Linked DNA regions of Homo sapiens. The protein of the gene in region 1 purifies or fractionates together with the protein of each later gene. This does not show direct contact. Each region holds a gene or a part of one and is shown on either strand. Other genes may lie near its edges.

The links. Proteins that work in one complex are often made in the same cells at the same time.
Region 2: the proteins of TBPL1 (region 1) and TAF1L purify together in Homo sapiens (affinity purification with mass spectrometry, with the first as the bait; one large-scale study listed by BioGRID). This does not show direct contact.

What each region holds. Positions count from the first base shown.
Region 1 is NC_000006.12:133,984,224-133,987,577, reverse strand, and holds part of TBPL1 (TATA box-binding protein-like 1), read right to left. Parts: intron 3,203-3,354; coding exon 3,099-3,202; intron 3,002-3,098; coding exon 2,907-3,001; intron 618-2,906; coding exon 538-617; 3' UTR 1-537. UniProt on the Homo sapiens protein: Part of a specialized transcription system that mediates the transcription of most ribosomal proteins through the 5'-TCT-3' motif which is a core promoter element at these genes. Seems to also mediate the transcription of NF1. Does not bind the TATA box.
Region 2 is NC_000009.12:32,632,870-32,636,997, forward strand, and holds the start of TAF1L (transcription initiation factor TFIID subunit 1-like), read right to left. Parts: upstream 2,801-4,128; 5' UTR 2,711-2,800; coding exon 1-2,710. UniProt on the Homo sapiens protein: May act as a functional substitute for TAF1/TAFII250 during male meiosis, when sex chromosomes are transcriptionally silenced.

The sequences.
Region 1 (3,354 bases):
CTTGCATAGATTTTAAAAAAAAGAAGTATGAATACAATTTTTGTTAAAATAGAAAATGGGGAATAAAAGTTATAGAATGAAGAGAGATCTTTTCCAAACTTTTATTTGTGCACATTCAATTGAAAAAGATAACTTTTACAGGTTCTTTGGTGCCCATATTCAGCATACAAAAATGTAAAAGACTATTCACAAATAAAACACATTAGCTCAAAATGGAAAAAAATAACAATGACGACAATAAAACAATCTAAGGTAGTGCACACTGTGACAGCTCTGCTTATGGGGACATGAGAATTACTGCGAAAATAAATAGAATGTCCTTTTGTAAAAGCAGCAATATCATGTCTTGTAAACTTCCTTTTATATTACAGCAAGGTTTGGAATAAAATCCAAAGGGACTGGAGCTTACACTGTAGCCGTGAATGAATAAAAGAGTCTATTTCCTCAATTATTGTTGGTCCAGTTTTCCTTTTGAGTCCAATGTGCAGCAGGTTTAAAAGGTGCTCAGTTAGAGATTCTAACCAATTAAGTGGTGAATTATAAAATTTCTTTCCTGCTTTCAAACACAAATGGGTAAATCTGTTCCACAGCAGTAGCAACAGCCTTTACATTGGGCCCTGTAATAAACACAATGGAGGAAGGAGTGAGAAGAGTTGGAAAAGGGAGCACTAGGAAAAACTGATTTTCCAGAATTAAAAATATTCAAGTGGTATAGAATATCAAGTTAACTGTTAAAAAAAAGAAAACTAGACATATAATTATACACATAGCCATAATAAGTAAAAGTAATACAGATTTTGTTCTGGGCAATTAAAGGACATATGAAACACAAAATGAGGTTATTCACTTTGTTTTAGGGCATACAAACTATCATGGACTAATATAAAAAGCACTGTAATATAATATGTACATGAAAGGAAGGAGTAACAAATGGGACTAAATAACAGCTATCCTTTAAGTCACTATCATCTGGCTTCTGGTTAGGCTACAACAGAGGCTCAGGGATATGGAGGAACACAGCAGAGTGAAACAAAGCTGCTACCAAAATGTTGGGAAACCAGAATGCTGGTTTAAAAATCCCCACAGATTTACCACCACTGGGTATCCACATATTTATTACCAATCTGGTCATTTCACCCTCAGAGCGTATACAAGTCAATAGAAAACAAAAAAAGCACAAGGCTACGAGGTGACCATGCATTATGCTAATTCTTGAACAACTTTATAAAAATGTAATCTTTCATTTAAATCGCTAAAAAGAAACATAAAAAAGGACAATGAAAACTATTCTCATAAAATTTTGAATAAAAATGGCTTCACCAATACACACTTAACCTCTTTTGAAAGACCCAGGAAACTAACAAATCCACCCACTGTAAACTCTCTGAAAGTCCTAACCACACATCCTATCTTGGTCAGGTCCTTCCTGACTCACTTTACCCCCACCTTGCTATGCTTTGTTCATGGGAACCAATTCAGTAACATTTCATAGGCTATTCCTGATCTAAGTAAATAATGCATACTGCTTAACCAGGTGAATTGTCTTCAGTTTGTTATTGTTTTGTTTAATATCTAGTAACTCAGTAAATACAGAGTTTTACATATGCATTGTTTTATTATATACTTAGTAGAGATTGTTCAATAGGCTTTGTGGCTTCTCAGACATCCATGCTCCAAAGTGTAGAAACAGAGAGCTGAAAGAAGGGAACAAACAGACTCGTCTCCTATCATCCCATATTTAAGATGCAGGTGGGATCTTGGGAATACGTTTTGAAAGTCCCCAAGGAAGATGGAAAAACCCATGGGATGAGTCAAAACTAAAGTTTATTTGTTGAGAGACTAAATTATTTTCCTCTGTGGATTGAAGAAAGAAAAAACAAAGCTCAAGGACATTAAAGACATTTTCTTTAATTCTTTTTTGCCTAAGGTTGGGCCTGACTCCCAAGCAATGCCTCTGTACAATTTATAATCATAGTACCATTAAAATGTCACACAGCATGCTAATGCTACTCTCTGACATGAATGCCTAGTTTTCTGAAACCACCCTTTCTCCAAATAAAGATTAAAAGATATAGCAAGACAAACATAACAAACAGGTACCAATTATATTTAATATTTTGCTTATGTAAAACCTCTGTGAAATTTATGAGTTTCTCATGAGAATTTTAAATGTAAGATATCATGAATTTACAAAAAAAAAATCATACTATGGATACATATACCAGAAAATATATGTGTGTATATATATATATATATATATATATATATATATATATATATTTTTTTTTTTTTTTTTTTTTTAGACAGAGTCTCACTCTGTTGCCAGTCTGGAGTGCAGTGGTGCGATCTCAGCTCGCTGCAACCTCCGCCTCCTGGGTTCAAATGATTCTCTTGCCTTAGCCTCCCGAATAGCTGGGACTACAGGCGTTCACCACCACGCCCAGCTAATATTTTGTATTTTTAGTAGAGACGGGGTTTCACCATGTTGGCCAGGATGGTCTTGATCTCTTGACCTTGTGATAAGCCCGCCTCAGCCTTCCAAGTGCTGGGCTTACAGGCATGAACCAATGCACCTGGCCTACCAGAATATTTTTAAAGCTCCAACTGGAAACTACTCAAATGCCCAATAAGAACGAATGATCTACATACAGCTACATAGAATATAATATAGATGAAACTCACTAAGATAATGCTGAGTGAAAAAAGACACAAAATAGTAAGTGTAACATTTATAAATAGTACAAAAGTAGGCAAAATGCATCTAGTGTTAAAAGTCAGGAGACTGGTTCCTCTAAAGGGCAGAAGTGACTGAAAGGAACAAATCACACATTATTTCTATCTTGGTATGAGCATCTTGTATCATTCAATCCATAATTGATAAGTGTGGTTTCAATATCATAGAATACCTGTTACTGTGATACTTCCTGTTGAAAAAATCTGTAATGTAGCTCTTAGAGATTTTATCCGATAGCACACAGCAGGATGAAGTTCAGGTTCGTAACTACACAAAATAAGCCACAATTAATATAAATATTTATACCCTGACTAGTAATTTCAAATTTGGTAATTTCTCAAGATAAATTGCTTCAAAGACTTACCTGGCATGAGGTCTATTGTTCTTTGTGAATTCTGGCAAACGGATTTCAAATGGCATGTTACACACTGCCAGAACGTTAACAACCTTAAAATCTGTAAATATTACCTTTAGGAGAGAAGTAAAATTCAATAAATTTATTTTGAAACAAACAAACAAAAAATCTGCTCATAATGGCAATCCTTAAAAACAAGAGCAAACAAGATAAAACAAAAACATTTTAAGTGTATGTTTAGTACTGTAAGTTGTGTAGCATGGAA
Region 2 (4,128 bases), on another chromosome or scaffold:
ACTGCTCTGGTGACACCTTAGCTCTGATCTCTTCTTCCGTTGGTAAACGAAAATCAGACTTAAGCACCCACCAGTTTGAATCCATCCCTGTGCGTTTGAAGTCAGCGCAGAGCTTTAGCCTCTTCCGGATGCTGCTTTCTGAATGGGAAGGAAAGGCTTTTTTTATATCTTCCATTCGTATCCTCCGTGGCCGATCTTTACTCTTCCAGAAAAGGCGGTAAATAAAAACCTGTAGAAAGTCTCGAATATGCATATTGGCCCTTCTGGAGTTAGGCCCAGGAACTTCAAACAAGGGACACTGCTGGCCAACCACAAAAATATCCACTAATTCCCGAATATAGTAACCCTGTCTTGTCCGAATGATCAGAAAATCAGTTTCTGGCATCTTATGAAGATACACTGGAGCACGAAAAAGGTTGTTCTCAAGTGCCTGCAGTAATTGGCCAGGATGGAGAGAGCCCAAGAAAGGAGATGTATGGCAGTAAACAGTTTCCCCATATTTACAATCTGGTGCTCCAGGATCTTTGCCAGGTTTCCGTTTATAATAGTTCTTTATCTTGGTTGCCATGCCAACCTGCATCATTAAGGGTCCATTTTCCTCACTATATTCTGCAAGAATAAGATCTCCATCTTTGCCTGTGAGATCCTGAGGTGTGCGCATAAAAAACAACTCTCCACCACCTGAGGCTTGCCTCTCTTGTTCTCTCATCTTGGCCTTTTTTTTGATGTGCTTTAGCAAAGGTTGGACTGAATGGGGACCTGGCTGAGAGAGTGCACCAAATGAGTACTTTTTCAGAGGTGGGCGATGGAACTGCCGGATTTTGATGGGCCCCATGTGGGTGGGAAAGAAGGGCTGCCATAATTCCATAGCAGGAATTGAATGCTGGATAATATTCCCTCCAAAGGTGCCCCGAAGACCCTGTTGCTTGGGGAAATAATACTCATCATTGGAGAGATTCCATGGATCTTTCACTTCTGGCTGAGACATGTTCTGCTGTGGTTCCTCCCTGATGACACCTGTTTTGCCCAAGAGAATTCGACTCTTCTTCAGAGATGATTCCTTCTTACTCTCCTTGGAGGGGGAGTTAGAGGTGGCCTCTTCCTTCTCATCAGGAATTTCCAAAATGAGGTTCTCATCATTGGGATCAAGTGCCAAAACAGGAGGTTCCAACAGCCGGGGCATGGCCTGAGCATCCCAAATGATATTGTCCTCCCAGCGTCCATACACCAGATCCTCATTGTCAATGGGAAAAATGGAGTACCAAGGTTTGTCATCATCCAGAGTGGGTGCAAAACCTTGCTGAACATTGTAAGCCATTACATTCCTAGTCTTAATAGAAGGAAGCCAGCCTGCCAGGCTTGCACCCTGAGGTTTTGTCCCTTTGTGTTTGATATCCTCCCCATCCCAGATGATAGAATCCTCCCAATGCAGCTGTGTCACCATCAGGAAGTTTTCGTCAGCCAGAAGATCAGTGCCATTGCTTTCCTCAAGTTTCCTAAATTCCTCCATCATTCTAGATTTTATCACAGGTTCATGTTGTGTCTTTCTCAGTTTGAAGCCATAGTCAAACCCACTGCCATCTTCGGAGACACCCAGCATATCATACCACAGTCGGGCAGGCCCATAACGCCACTCAGCCACTCTTGGTTTGGTATCTGTCACTTTATCTACATCTCCAGTTGATTGGGAAAATTTGGACTCCACAGGAACCATCATCGTGATTTCATCATCAGCGAGACACTGCTCTGGGGGTGGTGGTGGAGCATAGTCATAGTTCCACAAAGACTTCTGGCTGACTTCTGATTCTACTGAGCATTCCACCTCCTGGATCTGCTCTTCCTGTATCAGCTCACGATGCTTCTTCCTCTTTCTCCGAGCACTCCGCCAAACAGATGGGACATTCTTCCCTGGTCCAAAAAGATGTAGGAAGCGTAACACTTTTCCAGGTCGAAATTCTGGAAAAAGTTCGGTGACACTTGGCAACAGCTTGGTGGCATCATGCTGCATAATCCCAGCCAATGGAAGGGTCAGCTTTCCATCCTCAGATTCTGCCTGTGTTGCTTCCTGAGGTCCCATCTCAGATTCTGAATCAGAGTAACTACTGAAATCCACTTTCTCTGAGGCCAAAAAGGAAGGGGCAATGATGGAGGGCAAGATGATGTCTTCTCCACTTTCAGACACACAGGTAATAGCATCTTGGTCCTTATCCTTCTTCATTGGTCCCGGGGGTGGAGGTGGAGGAGGCATCAACTTGCAATCAATGTCTTCACAATCAGCATCATAGTCATCTTCATCATAATCCGAGTGGTAAAGGGGCTGCAAGCTCCCCATCGTCTGCTGGTGTCTTTGGCTTTCATCTTCTGCCACCTCATTGATGTCTGAATAGTCTACAGCATCTTCTGTACTCCTAATCCACCCTTCATCATTTACCAAGGCACCGCCAGTCCCAGTCAATTCTTCATTTGCCGTGAGTTCAGTGATTAGGCTGCCCAGCCCCAAAGCCCCCAAGCCTGCCAAGTGCTTCTTACACTCATCATCCAAGACGCTTTCCCCCTCCAGCTGCCCCGCTCCACTGATGTTGCCGAAAAGGATACCCGCTAAAGTAAATGGGCCACCTCCAGATGAATCTTCCTCGCTGTCCGAGTCTGACATGATGGCGGCAGTGACGGTAGCTGCTGCCCTCAGCAGCAAATCGCAGCCGGGTCGCATAAACCGGAAATAAAACAACAGTCGCCCGGAAGTGATCTACTTAGCTCCCTTACCCTACCAGCGTCTACCGGAAGCTGAATAAAGGCGGGGGGAGGGGGCAAAGGGGCGGGGGGAAAAACCCGCAAAACTTTTTTTTTTTTTTTTTTTTGAGACGGAGTCTCGCAACGTCGCCCAGGCTGGAGTGCAGTGGCGCGATCTTGGCTCACTGCAAGCTCTGCCTTCTGGGTTCACGCCATTCTCCTGCCTCAGCCTCCTGAGTAGCTGGGACTACAGGCGCTCGCCACCACGCCTGGCTAATTTTTTTTTTTTTGTATTTTCAGTAGAGACGGGGTTTCACCATGTTAGCCTCTCGATCTCCTGACCTCGTGAACCGCCTGCCTCGGCCTCCCAAAGTGCTGGGATTACAGGCGTAAGCCACCGCGCCCAGCCTGTTTGCTGGTTTTTGAGACAAAGTCTTGCTCTGTCGCCCCAGGCTGGCGTGCAGTGGCACAATCTCGGCTCACTGAAACCTCCACCTCAGGAGTTCAAGAGATTCCTGCCTCAGCCTCCACAGTAGCTGGGATTACAGGCATGAGCCACCATGCCTGGCTAATTTTTTGTATTTTTAGTGGAGACAAGATTTCACCATATTGGCCAGGCTAGTCTTAAACTCCTGACCTCAGATGGTCAGCCCGTCTCTGTCTCCGAAAGTGCTGGGATTACAGGCGTGAGCCACTGCACCCAGCCTCTGTAAATCTCTTTATACATGAACTGCATATGTATGCTTCTCCAAATAATCTATAGCATTGTCATGCTTTACAATTTTGTATAAAAGGCATCTTACTGTGTGTACTCGTTTTTTTTTTCCCCCTTCCTTTTTTTTAAGAGATGGGATCTCACTATGTTAGCCAAGCTGGTCTTAAACTCCTCCTGGCCTCAAGCAATCCTCCCACTTTGGCCTCCCAAAGTGCTGAGATTACAGGCAAGAGCCACCAAACCCGACCTTACTGTATGTACTCTTAGCCAGAATGTTTTCTGGATAAAATTTATGTTTATGATATTCAACTATGTTGATGCATTCAATTCTATTTTTATAGCTCTATAGTGTTCTACAGTATGGTTATGCTACAATTTATCTATGTTCCTATGTTTGTTCATTTAAATTGTTCCCAAATTGTTCCTCTTATAAATAATGTATATGATTCCTTGAGCATATGTAGGACACATTCTCCAGGGTATACATCTAGGAGTGGAATTACTAGATTTTACAATATATGCTTTTTCAACTACACTTGCTATTACTAAATTGTTCTCCAAAGTAGTTGTACCATTTTACATACCTAACAGCAGTGTATAAAAGTTCTCACCTCTCCACATCCATTCTAACACTTAGCATTGTCATTTGTTAATTTTTGTTCATTTCTAATAAATGTATAATG